Homo sapiens: one gene and its partners. The protein of the gene in region 1 purifies or fractionates together with the protein of each later gene. This does not show direct contact. Each region holds a gene or a part of one and is shown on either strand. Other genes may lie near its edges.

Region 1 (3,653 bases):
GAGTTCCTAAGGAGGCAGTACAGAAAAGTCCCCATGCCAAAAAAGAGTGGAAGTGGAAGGAGGGTCTAGGGATAGCAAATTCCAACTCAAACATGTCTCTTCCTTTCCAAGGTTGTGGGAAAGTATGTGGTAGTGATGGTGGGTTTTCTGCTTAAGGTATAGCAAGATCTCTAACTAAATAGGGTAAATGAAATATCTGGCTCATTCAGAGGGCAGGCAGCTCCCCTGTGACTTTACCCAAAGACATTCAAAGCAACTGCACGTAGTTTGTTTTCCCTCTAAGTGAGAAAGGGGTAAGGTTACAATTGTGTGTGCATCTCCCATTGAGATGTTCACCTGATTCTATCACTGCCTCAGAGACCTGGTAAAAATCCTGGGGCTTGTCAAATGGAGAAAGGGATGCCCAGGTCCAGAAGGGCTTTGCCCATGACCTCTCACGTTCAGAGTCTACTGGAGAGCCAGGACTCCACCTGCCTGACAGTCCCAGTCTGGGTCTGAGTTCTTGCCACCATTCTGCATCAGAATCACCTGGGGGTTTCTTGAAACAAAGATTGCTGAGCCCTAACCCAGAGGATCTGACTTAATATATCTGGGTTGAGGCTGCAGTTTGTGTTGATTCTGCCATCCTAGGGTCCAGGCTTTGAGAACCCCTGACTTAAGGCAAAGGACAGCTGACCAGGCCTAGCTACCTTAGCTCCTGTCTACTCTGAGGCCTTTCCTTGATGGCCCTCAACTGCCTTCTCCTCAGTTAAGAGTCCTAGAAGCCAGTCACTCTTCCCTCTATAGCTCTGGGCTCCAGAAGAGGGGCTCAAATGGAAAAGGAGGACCTGGCTCTTTTGAATGTCCCTTCACTGAGCCCTAGAATGCTCTGTGGAAAGGGCCTTTGGGACACAGAATTTCACCTTACCAGGAGGGGAGTGTCTAGAATTAAAATTAGAATAAATTATTGGATTGGGTAATCTGCACTCACTGTATGCGTTGTAAGAGTTCATGTGTGGTCAGGCATATTTGGAGATGCCTGTTACTCTTTGTTGGTAAGAATAAAAGAGTTTTGAATCAGCAGAATTTAGAGCAACATGTTCTGTCAGCAAGTTACCTAGAGAAGCAGAAATGACTGAGGAATAATAAGGAGGAAGTGACTAAGGCCCAGGACACAAGCAAGAGTCTAGGTGGAATCTGAGTAGAGATTCTAAGATTCTGGAGTCTTCTATGTACCTTCTCAGTCTCGAGGCCTTGGGGCAGAGCAGGAATTGACCACATTCACAGCATTCCCAAAGTGAGATTATGCCCAACCCCTGTCAAGATAGCCAAAGAGGCAGATAATGCACCGGGAGGTAAATATCCAAGTGAAACAGAGTAGGGACGGGACTCTGCCTCCACCACTAATAATGCATTTTTCCACACCCGCTGACTACCAGAACTTGCACCTCCACTGGTGCCATCCTCACTGGCTGTAAGACCTTAAAGAAACTAAGATAAGAAGCATTCTACCATAAATCTCATTCAAGGGAGTTAACTTTATTGCTTGCATGCACACAGGACTTTACCTCATTGCTTGCCTCATTATAATGTGAAAATCCCCACCCAGGGAGGGGCTTATCCACCATTTTTTGATCATGTGATGTAAGTACTAACATGATATCTCACTGGGCCTGCACACTCTACACTCCACCCAACACATGCAATGATATTAGCATACATCATGCTTTTCATGTCACCATGTTTAAAACAGCAAAAAGACCTCTCCTTGGGGAGCCATCTGGAGAACTCTCACTCCAGTGCTGTCTCCCTTGTATTCAAGAATAAGCCCCTAATAAAGCCTTGTCTGGGAAACTCACTTGGCCTTGTGTCAATTTCTATTGCATGGGAGACTAAAAACTTGTGGCTGGTAACACAAGAAGCTGGGTGTTTTAGTGTGATGGATGCCACAACAGTGGCAAAGATGGGGAACTGGATGACAGGGTGGGACCTGCAGGTGTTAAAAGCAGAAACAGCATGGATATGAGTAGTGGGTTCTGGAACAGCACAGAACCTTCCTATTCCTTGACTTTCTGTAACTTTTCTCCAGATTGTAACAGACTCAACCCTTGTCTTTCCCTGGCCCCTACTTCTAAGCCTGGCCAGGATTGGGGAAAGAAGAATAGCATAAAGAAAGAGAGAAAGTGGCCCCCATCCCACCTCTCTGACCCCTCTTGTCTGATGAGGAAAACCCAGGCATGTTCCTTAGAGAATTCCAAGTCTAATGGAAGGGACACAGGTACTGATTAGTGAGTCAACAAGCACTAGACCTATTGGTCAGTCAACAAGCACCCTCCCATCTCTGAACCTTTGTACTTGCTGTTTTCTCTATCTTCAATGTTGTTCCTCTAGATATTTCCATCTAGGACTCACCTCCTCACTCCTTTCAGGTCTCAGATATCACCTTATCAGAGAAGCCAATTATCATCACTTCCAAAACAGCCTCCGCCATTCTCTTTTCCCTTCTGCCCATATCAAAACACACACACACACGTGCATGCACACACACAAACACACACAATTTATTTTTCCTTTCTCCCTCTACAGTGTCAGCTCCAAGAGAACAAGGATACCACTGTATTCACTGGTATATCCTTGGTACCTGTGACGTACCAGGCACGTAGGTTTGCAAGAAATGTTCATTGAATAAATGATCAAAGTGATTGAATGAATATCTACTATGTACTCACCACTGTCCTGGCCAATTAGAGACAAGGAAGAAAAAGGCGAAGTTCCTGTCAGTGCTAAGGTGCTTGGGTTTTAGGGTCAAAACCTACTTGTCATTTCTGCTCCCTCTCTGGCCTCCACAGTTTAAGCCCTACATTCTCCATCTCTCTTTTCCTTCACACCTCTCATCCACTCCATCCCCTCCTCTCTGCCCCTTCAGCTCCCAGTCTCAGGCCACTGCAGGCCCCCTCCTCTTTAGCCTGGATGTTTTTGGAATAGCCTCCACTCTCAACTCTTCTATCCCTTCAAGCATCTTCCCATCCCCTCTTTTCCAAGGCCCATGGGGCTAGAGTGTTCTGGCCCCTGTCCACCCCTCCCTCTGCCCCACCTTCTGCTGCTCAGCTCCTCTCCCCTTGGTCCCAGCTACAGTGATCACTCAGGCCCTGGACAGGAAGCCTTAGCCATTCTCAGGGCTTGTGCATTCACCATTCTGTCTGGCCTTCCCTTGGGTGTCTTCAGGGCCACTTCAGAGGCCTCTTGACTTCCCTAGCCGGAGCAGCACTCCAAGGCACACACTTGCCACTTTCTGTTACCTTTGTATGTTCTTGATCCACTAGCGAAAACTTTCTATTTGTCTGTTTCCTGGATAATCTCTTTCACTCTTTAAAATGTAAGGTTCACAAGAGCTGGGACTCTGTCCTTCTTTCACATGCCTAGTCCCTAAAGTAGAAGCTGGTCAGTAAAGTTTGCCGAGGGGCCAGGTTTCAAATGCATTCTGAACAAATGCCTCCCCTCTGTTTTCTGTCAAATTGGAAAACACTTCCCTCTAGGTGTGGTGAGACTCCCATAAGATGTGTCTAATGTGCCGGGCAGACTGTTGCATCTGGCATACATAAGTCCCAATAACTTATGATCTTGACCATCCAGTTTCCAGGGGACTCTAAGTCTGGGGGACGCTGATAGAGACG
Region 2 (3,653 bases), on another chromosome or scaffold:
TTTTGGAGGAGAGTGTGAAGGGCAGAGGGCTCCCTGCGCCGGCAGGACCTGCCCGGCCACCCTCCACTCCCCTGCCATCACCCCTCCTCTCTCCTTTTAAAAAGCAAAACCCCACTCTTGGGACTCGGGTCGTCCTCCGATCCCTGCTGGAAAGTGCGGCGGCTACTTGGCGTCGAGCTTGGCCATCTCCTGCACGTAGATGCCGATGCTCTCGCTGTCGAAGAGCAGGAAGTACACGTTCTTCAGCGAGGACGCGCTCGAGTCATCAAAGTGGGCTGAGATGGCTTTGAGGGTCACCTGGGCCGCAGTCTGTTTGGGAAAGCAGTTTCTGTGCCAAAGCAAAAGAAGAGCCGATGTCATTTTGGTCCCTGGGACCCATGGGAGCATGAAGTGCCTTTGTTTTTACTGGGTGGGGCCTTGCTGTGTGCAGGGCTAGTCCATGCATGATCTCCTTTGACCCTAGCCAAAGGGACAGCCTGGGGGTGGCAGGTGGGGCATGTTGCCCCCACTTTATAGGTGTCACACTGACTCGGAGAGGCACAATGATTTAATTTGATTAAATTAATTTATTTGTTTTGGGATGGAGTCTCTCTCTGTTGCCCAGGCTGGAGTGCAGTGGCGCGATCTCAGCTCACTGCAACCTCCACCTCCCGGGTTCAAGCGATTCTCCTGCCTCAGCATCCCAAGCAGCTGGGACTACAAGTGCGCACCATCATGCCTGGCTAATTTTTGTATTTTTAGTAGAGACGGGGTTTCACCATGTTGGCTAGGCTGGTCTTGAACTCCTGACCTCAGGTGATCCGCCTGCCTCGGCCTCCCAAAGTGCTGGGATTACAGGTGTGAGCCACCGTGCCCTGCCAAGCACAATGATTTTAGTCAAGGTCACAGGGCTGGCCAAGTGAAGAGTGCCCTGTATTTTATTTTTTATTATACTTTTTTTAAATTAGTTTTTTTTTCAGAGGCAAAGTCTTGCTCCATCACTCAGGCTAGAGTGCAGTGGTGTGATCATAGCTCACTGCAGCTTCAAACCTCTGGGCTCAAGCTATCTGTCTTCTGCCTCAGCCTCCTCAGTAGCTGGGACTAAAGGCGTGTGCCTATAAAAAAATTTTTTTTTTTAAATTTTTTGTAGAGATGGGTCTTGTTATGTTGCCCAGGCTGGTCTCGAACTCCTGGCCTCAAATGATCCTCCTGCCTCAGCCTCCTAAAGCTTTTGGATTTACAGGCGTGAGCCACCGTGCCAGCTCCCTATATTTGATTCTATGTCACCTGACCAAGTCAAGCTTGGCTTTAAAAATGCTAGCCATTCAGCATTAAAAATACCTGGTCTTCAAACAAGCAAACAGAAGTTTTATTAGCTCCCTCCAAACTGGTTTATATACTAACCCAATTGCTTAGTAAAGGGCAAAAATGTATGCTCCAAACCTGTCTTCGTAAGTCCTTTTTTATGCACTTAATATTTCATAGGCACAGGCCCATGTAATTTCAGCATTGTGACTCCGGGCATGGCGGGGTTAATGAAAGTTTGTTAAAGGCCCCAGGTTCCAGGGAGCTACTGATAGTGCCATCCACCAGGCTGGGCCACAGCACCAGCTTCCAGGGACACAGCCAGAATGGTCGTTAGGGGTCAGCCACAGAGACCCCTGGAGCAGGTCCAGGAGGGGCCTGTTAATAGGAATTCTTCCCAATCGCATGTATTCCAGCACAGAACAGCACTGCCGTGGTTCCACCGACGAAAGAATGCATCTCACAGCATCTCTGGGCCTGGAATGCTGAGACTCAATGCTGCTTGCCTAGGTTGATGTGTGATTACAGCAGGAACCTAGGTCTCATTATTTTCCTCTTGGGCTTCCCAGGACACAGCTATAAACCATAGCTATATTATAAAGGACAGCTCTCAAGGTGAGAGGGTGTTCAAAATTAAAGCAATAGATTGGCTAGGGGCATGAAGGGAAAGGATATGTTTTATGTGACAGCAGATATCCTCATTATGTATCTGAAACAATGCCCAGCTGGGATCTGTGACAATCCAGTCATTGCCCAGTCTCCTTTTCAGCAATCACTCGGGGACAGATTTTCACTTCTCTGGGTGTATTCATCAAAGCCTCGAACTCCTGGCTCTGCAGTCTCCCAGAGCAGCAACGGAATTCTCTGGGGATTCTGGAGCCAGAGGTCGGAGATGGGGGGCCTGAGATTCTGCATTCTGACATCGGTCACTGCTGCCTATGGACCACACTTTGAGTAGCAAGGCCTTCGAGCCTGGCGTTTTCTGATCATGTGTCCTGGACATGGACAGCTGGTGGGAATATGGACTTTGAACCTGGAAGGCTCTCAAAAAATAACACACCAGCTGGCCTCTGCCTCCCGCTCCTCCCCTGGGCTAGCCTTCCTCCTGGGGCTTTAACATCAAGGAGGCACTGGGGCTGGCCCCAGCCGGGGAAGACCTGCTGCCTAGGAGCCAGTGGGCTCGCTTCCCCATGGTTTCTGAAGGATGAAAACCGGGTTTCCTGCCCTGTCATCTGGTCAGCATACTTGGCTGTGCTGGCAGCCCTTGGCAACACCCAGATCAGATGTAAGTGGGGGAGCAGCTGATTTCCAGGGAAAAAGCCGGAGGAATCAACTCAGGGGAACTGCATCTTACCTGCCGCTGGGGAAAGGCGGGAACGCGACGGACTTTAGCTTCTTGTCCTCCGCCGCTGACAGGCAGTTTTTGATGGTCTCTTCAAGCTGTTCTTCACATTTGTCGGAGCCCCACTGAGGGATGTGACAGTGGATGACAAATTTGGCTGCGAGTCCACTGGATTGGCTGACGGCGGCTGGGACATAGGAGAGAAAATGCCGCGGGTTATTTCCTAAGGTTTCCTAGGTTATAGCCTAACCTCATCAGGTACCTGTTAGATCTGGAGATAAGGCAGTGATAGAGACGTTGGCTGGGCAGCATCCTGTGCTCCTGATGTGGACTATGTTTAACGAGAGCAAGAGCTGGGCTGTATTGCTTTGCACAGTTAGCACAAGCTTTGGGTAGAAGCGTTTAATGCTGCTCTGATGCGCCATTTTCATATGGTCTGCCAAGTAGTCCCTGGGTTGGGCTACCTCCTCACAATGGTTCCTAGTTAAAGGGACACATCAGATCCTCTCTGGTGGCTGTGGCAGGTAAAGTAATGGCATCCCAAAACATCCACGTCCTCCTCCCTGAAACCTGTGGGTGTTCCCGTACATGGCAAAAAGGACTTTGCAGATGTGATTAAGTGAAGGCTCTTGAGATGGGGAGATGATCCTGGACTGTCTGGGTGAGCCTGGGACCTGATAAGAGGGAGGCAAGAAGGTCAAAGGCAGGAGAAGGCCGTGGGATGAAGGAGACAGAGATTGGAACGATGCAGCCAGGAGCCAAGGAATGTTGCAGCTTAGAAGCTGGAAAAGGCAAGGAAGGGATCCTTCCCTGAGCCTCCAGAAGGAACCAGCCCTGCCAACACCTGGATCTTAGACTCTTAAAACTCATTGTGGACTTCTGGCCTCCAGAACTGTAAGAAGACAAATTTGTGTTGTCTGAAGCCACGAACTTTGTGGTAATTTGTTACAGTAGCCACAGGAAATGAATACAGTGGCTTTTATTTTTATTTTTTTATTTTTAGTTTTTTTTTGAGACAGAGTCTTTT
Region 3 (3,653 bases), on another chromosome or scaffold:
GGAACAAATGCACAGATACAGAAATTGAGGCTTGAGTTCCTGGAGCTCATACAAGGTCATTCAGAAAAGGTAACCATACTAGGGATGCCTTTTAGGCTACATTGCATATTATAGGCTGAGTAGAGAGAAAAGAGGACCATTAACATTTAGTTATGCGTTTTGCTCACATCTGTAATCCTAGCACTTCAGGAGGCCAAGGCAGGCGGATCACGAGGTCAAGAGATTGAGGCCATCCTGGCCAACATGGTGAAACCCTGTCTCTCCTAAAAATTCAAAAATTAGCTGGGCATGGTGGCGTGTGCCTGTAATCCCAGCTACTTGGGAGGCTGAGGTAGGAGAATCACTTCAACCCAGGAGGCGGAGGTTGCAGCGAGCCGAGATTGCGCCACTGCACTCCAGCCTGGGCGACAAGAGCGAAACTCCACCTCAAAAAAAAAAAAATTAGTGATGTGTTTTCTACATATATTTTCTCCTTTGGTCCTCAGAACTACCCCAATGAGGTAGGTATCACTTTGCCACATTATTCAGAAAAACTGAGGCTCAGATGAGTGAAGTGGCTTGCCCAAGGTGACCCAGCCAGTGAGTGAAGCCAGGTCTGTGACCCTAAAGCCTGTGCTCTCTTTGCTATGCCAGGCTGCCAGTGTGGCAAGAAGACCTGAAGGCTATAGCTCTTACTTACGCCTTCAGAAAACATCCCTGATTCTGGCCAATGAATTCAGTGAATCAGAGCCTGGTATAGGCATACATGCGAGCCTCTTGTGCATCAACATATGGCTTGATGTTGACTCTAGGCTGCGCTGCTGCCTCATAAAGCGGATGCCACGACTCACTAACAAGTCCATGTGGCTGAAATGGTGTCAACCTAGCAACTACTGCTTTAAAAATGTGGGGCCCAGAAGCCCCCACCAGTGGTGGAGGACTGATGGGGCTCAGCAGGACTCACAGATGATATGTCTCAGATGCTCTTCCATACCTGTATCACTTCAACTGGGGAAGTTTTGAGGATTTTGGGCAAGCCAGAAGAAATTTGCTGGCCTTTCCCACAATGGTTTTTCTAGTATAGGGAATTTCAGTTTCTCTGCTTGTTGATTTTGTTTCAGCAAGTCATCAAAAAAGTAATGTACATGTTGTAGAATATTTTATAATATGAGAAAATATTCTGTTTGTGGTGTTGAGTGTAAAAAAAGCAAGTTACAGGCCAGGCGCAATGGCTTGTGCCTGTAATCCCAGCACTTTGGGAGGTTGAGGCAGGCAGATAATCTGACTCAGGAGTTCTGAGACCAGCCTGGCCAACATGGTGAAACTCAGTCTCTACTAAAAAAATACAAAATTAGCTGGGTGTGGTAGTGCATGCCTGTAATCCCAGCTACTCAGGAGGCTGAGGCAGGAGAACTGCTTGAACAGGTGGGCGGAGGCTGCAGTAAGCTGAGATTGCGCCATTGCACTCCACTCTGAGCGAAAAGAGTGAAATTCTGTCTCAAAAAAAAAAAAAAAGAAAAAAAAAGAAAAAAACAAGTTACACATCAATCTGCTTCTTATGTCCTCAATTTTATAGAACAACAACAAACGCATAGGTGACAGCATGGAAAAAAGATCAAAAGCACAGAGAGTAGAGTGTGTTTCACTATTTTCCGACTTTTCCTTTCTTTTTTTTCTTTTTGAGATGGAGTTTTGCTCTTGTTGCCCAGGCTGGAGTGCAATGGCACGATCTTGACTCACTGCAACCTCTGCCTCTGGGGTTCAAGCGATTCTCCTGCTTCAGTCTCCGAAGTAGATGGGATTACAGGCATACGCCACCATGCCCAGCTAATTTTGTATTTTTAGTAGAGATGGGGTTTCTCCATGTTGGTCAGGCTGGTCTCAAACTCCTGACCTCAGGTGATCCACCCGCCTCAGCCTCCCAAAGTGCTGGAATTACAGGCGTGAGCACCCGGCCTACTATTTTCCAACTTTTCTGTAATGAATGTAGATTTTTAACATCAGAAAAGAGGTATAATGGTTGTTAAGAGAGAACGGTCATTCTTTGAGATACTGAACAGAAGCATCAGAAGTGAAAGTGTAAGTAAGTCTAGAACCATTTAATGCGCATCCAATAAAATGAGGGATATAGAGTCTGTTCTCAGAAAATAACCTGAAATGTAATAAAGTGTTCTACAGAGATGTTCACTGTAGTGTTATCTGTAACACCAAAAAGTGGGGGGTGGGGAGATTAAATGTTCAGCATTAGACGAATATTAAATGTAGTACGATGCAGTCACTAAAAATGCTTATAAAGAATTTTTTAATAACATGGGGAAATACAAATGTCATATTAAATAAAAAACATATAGAAGGCAATTGTATGGCCAGGTGCGGTGGCTCATGTCTGTAATCCTAGCACTTTGGGAGGCAGAAGCGGGTGAATCACCTGAGATCAGGAGTTAGAGATCTGCCTGGCCAACATGCCGAAACCCCATCGCTAGTAATACAAAAATTAGGCAGGGCACGGTGGCTCATGTCTGTAATCCCAGAACTTTGGGAGGCTGAGGTGGGTGGATCACCTGAGGTCAGGAATTCAAGACCAGCCTGAGCAATATGTTGAAACCCTGTCTCTATTAAAAATGCAAAAATTAACTGGGCGTGGTGGCAGGTGCCGGTAGTCCCAGCTACTCAGGAGGCTGAGTCAAGAGAATTGCTTGAACCCAGAGGGTGGAGGTTGCAGTGAGTCAAGGTTGCACCACTGCACTCCAGTCTAGGCGACAGCAAAACTCCATCTCAAAAAAACAAAAAAACAACATTAGCCGGGTATGGTGGTGGGCACCTGTAATCCCAGCTATTCAGCAGGTGGAAGCAGGAGAATTGCTTGAACCTGGTGGGGCAGAGGTTGCAGTGAGCTGAGATTGCGCCATTTCACTCCAGCTTGGGCAAAAGAGGGAGACTCCATCTCAAAAAAAAAAAAAAACAAAAAACAAACAAACAAAAAAGGCAATTGTACATACCATACGGTAAGATCATTGTTTGAGGCCAGGAGTTCAAGACCAGCCTGGGCAACATAGTGAAACCCCGTCTCTAATAAAAACACAAAAATTGGCCAGGCGCGGTGGCACGCGCCTGTAGTCCCAGCTACTTGGGAGGCTGAGGCAGAAGAATCGCTTGAACCCAGGAGGCGGAGGTTGCAGTGAGCCGAGATCGTGCCACTGCACTCCAGCCTGGGTGACAGAGCAAGACTTCATCTCAAAATAAATAAATAAATAAATAAATAAATAAATAAAAATAAATAAAAAAATTTTAAAAACCCCACACGTGTAATCCATATGTGCATACTGGTATTTTAAAACATCACCAACATATTAACAGTATTTCTCTCTTGGTGTAGGATTTAGGTGATATTTTACTTTCTTCTTTGTATCTTTTGCAATTGTTTGAAGTGGAATTATTCATAATGAGTATGCATTGTTTTTATAAAAACATGAAAGTTATTTAAAGTAGTCTATGTTTATATGCACATATACACGGAGTTAACCTAGATATACACAAAACGAATATACACACAGATATACAAAGATACATATAACAATAAGATTATAGGAGAAACAGATTATAGGAGAAACCAAAATGTTAACAGTGTTTATCTGTGAATGGTAAAATTATGGGTAACTTTTCTTTCCATTTAT

What was found.
Region 2: the proteins of FAM111B (region 1) and MACROH2A2 purify together in Homo sapiens (co-immunoprecipitation; one large-scale study listed by IntAct). This does not show direct contact.
Region 3: the proteins of FAM111B (region 1) and ZNF346 purify together in Homo sapiens (co-immunoprecipitation; one large-scale study listed by IntAct). This does not show direct contact.

What each region holds. Positions count from the first base shown.
Region 1 is NC_000011.10:59,113,684-59,117,336, reverse strand, and holds part of FAM111B (serine protease FAM111B), read right to left. Parts: intron 1-3,653. UniProt on the Homo sapiens protein: Serine protease.
Region 2 is NC_000010.11:70,108,193-70,111,845, reverse strand, and holds part of MACROH2A2 (core histone macro-H2A.2), read right to left. Parts: intron 2,814-3,653; coding exon 2,639-2,813; intron 329-2,638; coding exon 163-328; 3' UTR 1-162. UniProt on the Homo sapiens protein: Variant histone H2A which replaces conventional H2A in a subset of nucleosomes where it represses transcription. Nucleosomes wrap and compact DNA into chromatin, limiting DNA accessibility to the cellular machineries which require DNA as a template.
Region 3 is NC_000005.10:177,046,629-177,050,281, reverse strand, and holds part of ZNF346 (zinc finger protein 346), read right to left. Parts: intron 1-3,653.